2 linked regions of the Homo sapiens genome follow. The protein of the gene in region 1 interacts with the protein of each later gene in a biochemical or structural test. Each region holds a gene or a part of one and is shown in the gene's direction. Other genes may lie near its edges. The genes, in order: ST14 and MST1.

What was found.
Region 2: of the proteins of ST14 (region 1) and MST1, one has a biochemical effect on the other in vitro, tested with the Homo sapiens proteins (one study listed by IntAct).

Annotation. Positions count from the first base shown.
Region 1 is NC_000011.10:130,166,271-130,170,085, forward strand, and holds part of ST14 (suppressor of tumorigenicity 14 protein), read left to right. Parts: intron 1-3,815. UniProt on the Homo sapiens protein: Exhibits trypsin-like activity as defined by cleavage of synthetic substrates with Arg or Lys as the P1 site. Involved in the terminal differentiation of keratinocytes through prostasin (PRSS8) activation and filaggrin (FLG) processing.
Region 2 is NC_000003.12:49,683,425-49,686,767, reverse strand, and holds the end of MST1 (hepatocyte growth factor-like protein isoform 1 precursor), read left to right. Parts: coding exon 1-84; intron 85-286; coding exon 287-455; coding exon of another isoform or gene 456-460; intron 461-575; coding exon 576-706; intron 707-805; coding exon 806-908; intron 909-1,035; coding exon 1,036-1,172; intron 1,173-1,261; coding exon 1,262-1,297; intron 1,298-1,385; coding exon 1,386-1,506; coding exon of another isoform or gene 1,507-1,546; intron 1,547-1,678; coding exon 1,679-1,756; intron 1,757-1,812; exon of another isoform or gene 1,813-1,883; coding exon 1,884-2,030; intron 2,031-2,111; coding exon 2,112-2,218; intron 2,219-2,314; coding exon 2,315-2,454; intron 2,455-2,578; coding exon 2,579-2,740; 3' UTR 2,741-2,821; downstream 2,822-3,343.

The DNA of each region.
Region 1 (3,815 bases):
TGGTTCAATGTGTCTAGTTGGTTGTTGTGCACACACCACTTGTATCCTGGACAAGGTGTTTTATTGGCCTCCTGTCTGCTGGGTGTGGAGCCCTGGGTGTTGGAGGATCGAAGTTCTGGTAGGCTTGTGTCTGATTGAAAGGCTGTGCCTAAGGGGGGGTCTGTTCTTGAATCCACGTCACTTTGGGTGGTGACCTCAGGCTGCTCGTCACCCCTTCCTGGGTTCTGTGCCATTTCTTATTTAGTAACAGCTCAGATGAGGACTTGGGGCATTTGCCTACCAGCTCCACAGATGACACCAGCTGGGAGGGAAAGGCTGATACCTTGTATGACTTGATTATGAGTCAGAGCATCTGGACAGACTGTCTGATAGGCTGCGCTGAGCAGAATGCATCCGTCTGGGTCAGGAGTCAGTGCTTTGCTCACTGAACCACCTCCCTCAACCATGGAGCAGAAACCACGAGACCCAGAGTTCTGAGTTGACAGTGAGCCCAGGAGAGATCAGGCATGGAAGTGTGACTGCCCAAAGTCGAAGTGTGCTTTCTTCCCCCTATGTTTTTATTTGGTTATACCTTTTAAAGTTATTATTAAAAGTCTAATATATACATATTTAAAGAAAACTTAGCCAACTCAGATAAGTAGTAAGAATTTAAAAATGAGGCCGGGTGCGGTGGTTCATGCCTGTAATCCCAGCACTTTGAGAGGCCAGGGCCGATGGATCACTTGAGGTCAGGAGTTCAAGACTAGCCTGGCCAACATGGTGAAACCCCATCTCCACTAAAAATCCAAAAATTAGCCAGGCATGGCGGTGGGCACCTGTAATCCTAGCTACTCAGGAGACTGAGAGAGGAGAATCACTTGAACCTGGGAGGTGGAGGTTGCAGTGAGCCGAGATCGTGCCATTGCACTCCAGCCTGGGTGACAGAGCGAGACTCTGTCTCAAAAAAAATTTTTTTTAATAAAAATGACACAAATACCCCTACAAAGACATTTTAACAATTTGGTATTGCCTATGCATGTTTTCTAAAAAAATTTTTTTCCTCATTACCACATTTAGGAAGCTTTTCTTTTTGAAGTCACACAATATAGAAATGTACAGTGTAAAATGTGAAACTTCTGAAATTCCCTCTCCCAGATTTTAGAGCCTCTATAAATAGTTTTGTTTATATTCTCCCACAAGTCTTGTGTGTGTGTTCTGCTGTTTGTGTGCACACCTATTCTCCTCCAAATGGAATCATCACTAATTCCACTCTGCAGTAAAGATATGATTTTATTAATGAACTTATCAAACATTTATTAGATATCATACCTCATGCTAGATTTGTGGAGCAAGACAGACCCCCTTCCCTCCCCTATCACAGGAGTCTGGGAGGGAGGTGTTGGAGAGGGATCTCCCAGAATTACTCCAAGGAGATGCCTGAGCTGAATTTCGAAGGGCAGGAGTGACTATTTTTTTTTTTTCTGAGATAGGGTCTTGCTCTGTCGCCTAGGCTGGAGTGCAGTGGCGCGATCTCGGCTCACTGCAACCTCTGCCTCCCGGGTTTGAGCAATTCTCCTGCCTCAGCCTTCCAAGCAGCTGGAATTACAGGTGTGCGCCACTGCGCCAGGCTAATTTTTGTATTTTTAGTAGAGATGGCGGTTTCACCATATGGGCCAGGCTGGTCTTGAATCCTGGCCTCGAGTGGTCTACCTGCCTTGAACTCCCAAAGTGCTGGGATTGCAGGCATGAGCCACCGTGCCCAGCCTATTTTTTTCATTTAACATTCTATCTTAGATAGCTTTTCCATGTCATTATCTACTTTTTGAAAAACGATTTTTGATTGCCTTATAAGCTTTCATCGAGGGAACATATCATTCTTTCCATCTTCTTATTTTAATCGTTTTATTGTTTGGGTGTGTTACTTGAATGCATCATTGGACAATTAATAGAAAAAGAGCAAACAGAATGAGGAAGGTAATTGGCAAGCAGACCCTGTGGAGGCCACGCTAGTCAGACCTCTTGTGGGTTATGCTGGTGAATTCTGGAAACGGTGTCTTCAAGGGAAGATGACTAAGGGTGAGATGGAACCAGATGGCCAGGGTTTAGAAAACATTTTGTTTGAATGATCAGAGGAGTTGAGCATGTTTAGCCAGAGGAGGTGCAGACTGAGAGAGCACACGAGCACCGATGTAGAGCTTCCACTGGAGCGTCTCCTGAGTGGGGAAACTAGGCTGGTTCTGTTGCAGTGCTAATTAGTGCAGAGGTGATTGCAGTGCTGATCACACTTGGTGGAAGGAAGAGCTTCCTAATACTCGTACTAAGGAAAATGCTATTTCTTCCAAAAGGATGGTCTCGCGAGGATGAGAGGTGGGTGACATGCCCTGCAGAATCTGTCTCGGCTCTGAGAATCCAATTTCAAGGGTAGATCCAGCAGTTCTCCCCTCGCTTGTATCCTATTCCCCCAGGATAGAGTCTGGTTCTAATAGAGGACACAGACTTCCTGGTGCCCTCCCCTGGGGGTGGGGCCCCTCTGTTTGCATAGTTGGTCCTTTCCCCAAAACAGGTGCTCAGATTTGTAGCCATGGAAGCGTGTTTTAGAACTTACCCAGTTCTAGAGGCTGCAGGCAGGCTTGGGTTTTTCCCACTAGCTTCTGCAGATCCCTGGGTCCACCAAGTCAGAAACAGACTGTGGCACCTCCATGCCATGAAATATGACTCAGCACTGAAAAGGAACAAGCTGATGGATGCAACAACTTGAAAGACCTCCAGGGAATTTTGTGCAGTTAAAAAAAAAGCCAACAGTCCCATACATACCATATTATTTATTTATATAATATAATGGGTTTTTTTTTTTTTTTTTTTTTTGAGACAGAGTCCTGCTCTGTCCCAGGCTGGAGTACAGCGGTGTGATCTGGGCTCACTGCAACCTCCGCCTCCCTGGTTCAAGCGATTCTCCTGCCTCAGCCTCCCGAGTAGCTGGGACTACAGGTGTGTGCCACCACACCCAGCTAATTTTTGTATTTTTAGTAGAGACAGGGTTTCGCCATGTTGGCCAGACTGGTCTTGAAATCCTGACCTCAGGTGATCCACCCGCCTTGGCCTTCCAAAGTGCTGGGATTACAGGCATGAGCCACCACGCCTGGCCTATATAACATAATTTTTGAAATGACACCATGTTAGTAGTAGAGGACAGATTAGCGATTGTGGAGCTGAAGGGGTGGGGGACAGGAGGGAGGTGGCTGTGGTTACAGAAGGCCATGGGCATCCTCGTGTTGGAGCTGTTCAGAATGTTGACTGTGATGCCAGAGACAGGGGACTACGCTAGCGATGACATAGATGGAACTTAATACTTAACGTGAGTAGCGGTGAAACGGGAAGTCTGAATAAGATCCGCGGATGATACTGCTGTTGTGGTATTATGATACAGTTTTATGAGGTGTGACTATTGGGAGAAACTGGGCAAGGATCTCAGTATGATTTCCTACAACTGTATGGGAATCTACAAGTATCTCCATAAAAATGTCAGTAATGAAAGGCACACTAGCTCGTGAAATCAGAATGTGGATTTAATAAAAAGTCAAGAAAACGAATGAAAAGAAGTTACTAGGTGCTGGCTGCACCTCTTGTTTCTCTTGTCGGGTTTTGGGGGATCTGCCTGTTTGTGCTGCTGCAGGCAGATGCTTCTGCTCTGAGTCCGGTGACTTGGGGCAGGAGGAAGGTGGGGCAGCTGGGCCGGGAAGTAGGTCTTTGGCACATAAGGAGAGGGCTGGTGCAAACTAAATGGGATCGAAGAGGCAGAGATGGAATTTTCCGGCTAGAATTGGCAAAAGAGGTTA
Region 2 (3,343 bases), on another chromosome or scaffold:
GGAATCCTGACGGCTCCGAGCGGCCATGGTGCTACACTACGGATCCGCAGATCGAGCGAGAGTTCTGTGACCTCCCCCGCTGCGGTAGGCGGCGGGGACCAGGCCTGGGAGGGTACCTGGGAACCTTGGGGAGGGGCGTGGCTTGGCCGGGGAGGTAAGAGGGGCTGGGCGTGACCTGAGAGCATACCCCGTGGAGTACCGTACACCTGGGAAAGGCGGGTTTGGTCCCAGCCCCAGAGGGATCTCAGCTCTCGCTCGGGGCCCGACCTATCTCGGTCCATCTAAGGGTCCGAGGCACAGCCCCGCCAAGAGGCCACAACTGTCAGCTGCTTCCGCGGGAAGGGTGAGGGCTACCGGGGCACAGCCAATACCACCACTGCGGGCGTACCTTGCCAGCGTTGGGACGCGCAAATCCCGCATCAGCACCGATTTACGCCAGAAAAATACGCGTGCAAGTGAGGTGGGGGGGGGGGGCGGGCGTTGGGACGTGCTGCTGCGGGTGAGACGGGAGGAAGGTAGTCACGGGCTCAAGGCTGGAGGCTGGCGGGCTAGGGCTGAGTGGAGCGCCTGCTTAGAGACCTTCGGGAGAACTTCTGCCGGAACCCCGACGGCTCAGAGGCGCCCTGGTGCTTCACACTGCGGCCCGGCATGCGCGCGGCCTTTTGCTACCAGATCCGGCGTTGTACAGACGACGTGCGGCCCCAGGGTGAGGCCCAAGCTTGGGGGCTACAGAGCCGGGCTGGAAGCCTGGAACCGGAGGGCCGGGGCGAGGTCTCGGCCTGATGGCTGCCCGCACCCGCCACAGACTGCTACCACGGCGCAGGGGAGCAGTACCGCGGCACGGTCAGCAAGACCCGCAAGGGTGTCCAGTGCCAGCGCTGGTCCGCTGAGACGCCGCACAAGCCGCAGTGAGTCCCTGGTGCTCCCGGCCCCGCCAGGGCCCTAACCCTGGGGCGGCATGCTTTGGTGTCTGGGACCAGAGCCTGGAAATGGTTGAGACTACCCTGCCACGATTTTGCTCCCGCTTCCGCCTAGGTTCACGTTTACCTCCGAACCGCATGCACAACTGGAGGAGAACTTCTGCCGGAACCCAGATGGGGATAGCCATGGGCCCTGGTGCTACACGATGGACCCAAGGACCCCATTCGACTACTGTGCCCTGCGACGCTGCGGTGAGCACTAGTGACGCTTCCCCCATGACCCTGCCTCAGCCCCCACCCAAAGGCTGGCTCCCTTAACCCCAGTGAACTTTGTCTTTCAGCTGATGACCAGCCGCCATCAATCCTGGACCCCCCAGGTTAGGAGTTGGGCCAGTTATGGGTCAGGCCCTTTAGCCCACGACATCCACACAGTCTGGGTTTCATCCAGCCCACCCCATCCTACAGACCAGGTGCAGTTTGAGAAGTGTGGCAAGAGGGTGGATCGGCTGGATCAGCGGCGTTCCAAGCTGCGCGTGGTTGGGGGCCATCCGGGCAACTCACCCTGGACAGTCAGCTTGCGGAATCGGTGAGGCACAACTGCCTGTCTCCCACAGAGAGGAGCTGAGGTTGTGTCCTCTGTGGTTATCCCACTGGGGGCTGGGAATCTATCCCTGCCCCCAGAGGTCCTAGCCAGAAGATGGCAGGTCTAGCATCTGTCCCAGGAGTCTGTTACCTGTCCTAATTCCCCACTCCTCTAGGCAGGGCCAGCATTTCTGCGGGGGGTCTCTAGTGAAGGAGCAGTGGATACTGACTGCCCGGCAGTGCTTCTCCTCCTGGTGAGCCTCCCTTGTGTTTGGGGACCCAGTCTCATCCCACCTTCCCCCTTCCCCAGGCAAGCTAACAAGTGAGCCTTGGGGCAATGGACTGAGAGTCACAAATGACCTAGCAGAGCTTCTCTCCCAGCCATATGCCTCTCACGGGCTATGAGGTATGGTTGGGCACCCTGTTCCAGAACCCACAGCATGGAGAGCCAAGCCTACAGCGGGTCCCAGTAGCCAAGATGGTGTGTGGGCCCTCAGGCTCCCAGCTTGTCCTGCTCAAGCTGGAGAGGTATGTGGACAACCTGGGAGGGTGTGAGGTGGGGCTGGGCCTTGTGGCCTCAGACCCTGAGTGCCCCCATTCTTGCTAAAGATCTGTGACCCTGAACCAGCGTGTGGCCCTGATCTGCCTGCCCCCTGAATGGTATGTGGTGCCTCCAGGGACCAAGTGTGAGATTGCAGGCTGGGGTGAGACCAAAGGTAAGAGCACAGTGCACAGGACTGCTGGTGGCCAGGAGGCCCAGCCCTGGATCTTCCTGCAGGACCCTCTCCCTCTCCCCATTCCCCTCACTGCAGGTACGGGTAATGACACAGTCCTAAATGTGGCCTTGCTGAATGTCATCTCCAACCAGGAGTGTAACATCAAGCACCGAGGACGTGTGCGGGAGAGTGAGATGTGCACTGAGGGACTGTTGGCCCCTGTGGGGGCCTGTGAGGTTGGTGGCAGGGCCCTGGGCCAGCCCTGGAAGGGTATGGGGGGCTAGAAATGAACTATTTTATCATGAAGCAGGCTAGTCATTGCTGTGGCCCGGGGCCCTCATCAGTTCTCCTACCTGCCAGGGTGACTACGGGGGCCCACTTGCCTGCTTTACCCACAACTGCTGGGTCCTGGAAGGAATTATAATCCCCAACCGAGTATGCGCAAGGTCCCGCTGGCCAGCTGTCTTCACGCGTGTCTCTGTGTTTGTGGACTGGATTCACAAGGTCATGAGACTGGGTTAGGCCCAGCCTTGATGCCATATGCCTTGGGGAGGACAAAACTTCTTGTCAGACATAAAGCCATGTTTCCTCTTTATGCCTGTACAGATGCTTCTTAGCCTTTGCTTCCAGGAAATGTGTCAGTGACTCCTTGCTAGGGCTCGGGTGGCTTGAGCCCAGCACACCCTGGGCTAGGTGATCTGTCCAGCCTAGGGGCTTCCCCAACCAAGGCAATGTCCCTGGGACTACTTTTGCCCATGGGTGCCGTGGAAAGACAGGGCCTCACACTAGTCCTCCAGACATACTCTTGGGAAGGGTGGTACAGAGTAGTTGCTAATGGAAGGGGCTGCAGCAGGGAAGCTAGGCTGGTACAGAGTCCTGGTTGCCAGGACAGGCAGAGGCTAAGCCTCTCACTGTTCCCTCCCTTCTCACACTGGAGGCAGATGAAGCCCTTGTGGCTGCCACACCCAGAACCTAGGGTCTCTGCACCCCAGAGTGGGAGGTGGGGTTGGGGATGGTTTGGTACAAAGTACCAGCAGGAACCAGGCTCTGTGTCCTAATTTATTATGACTACATAGCCCACATTCCTCTGCCCACGCATCCGTGGAGTCCAGAGCCCAGAAAGCC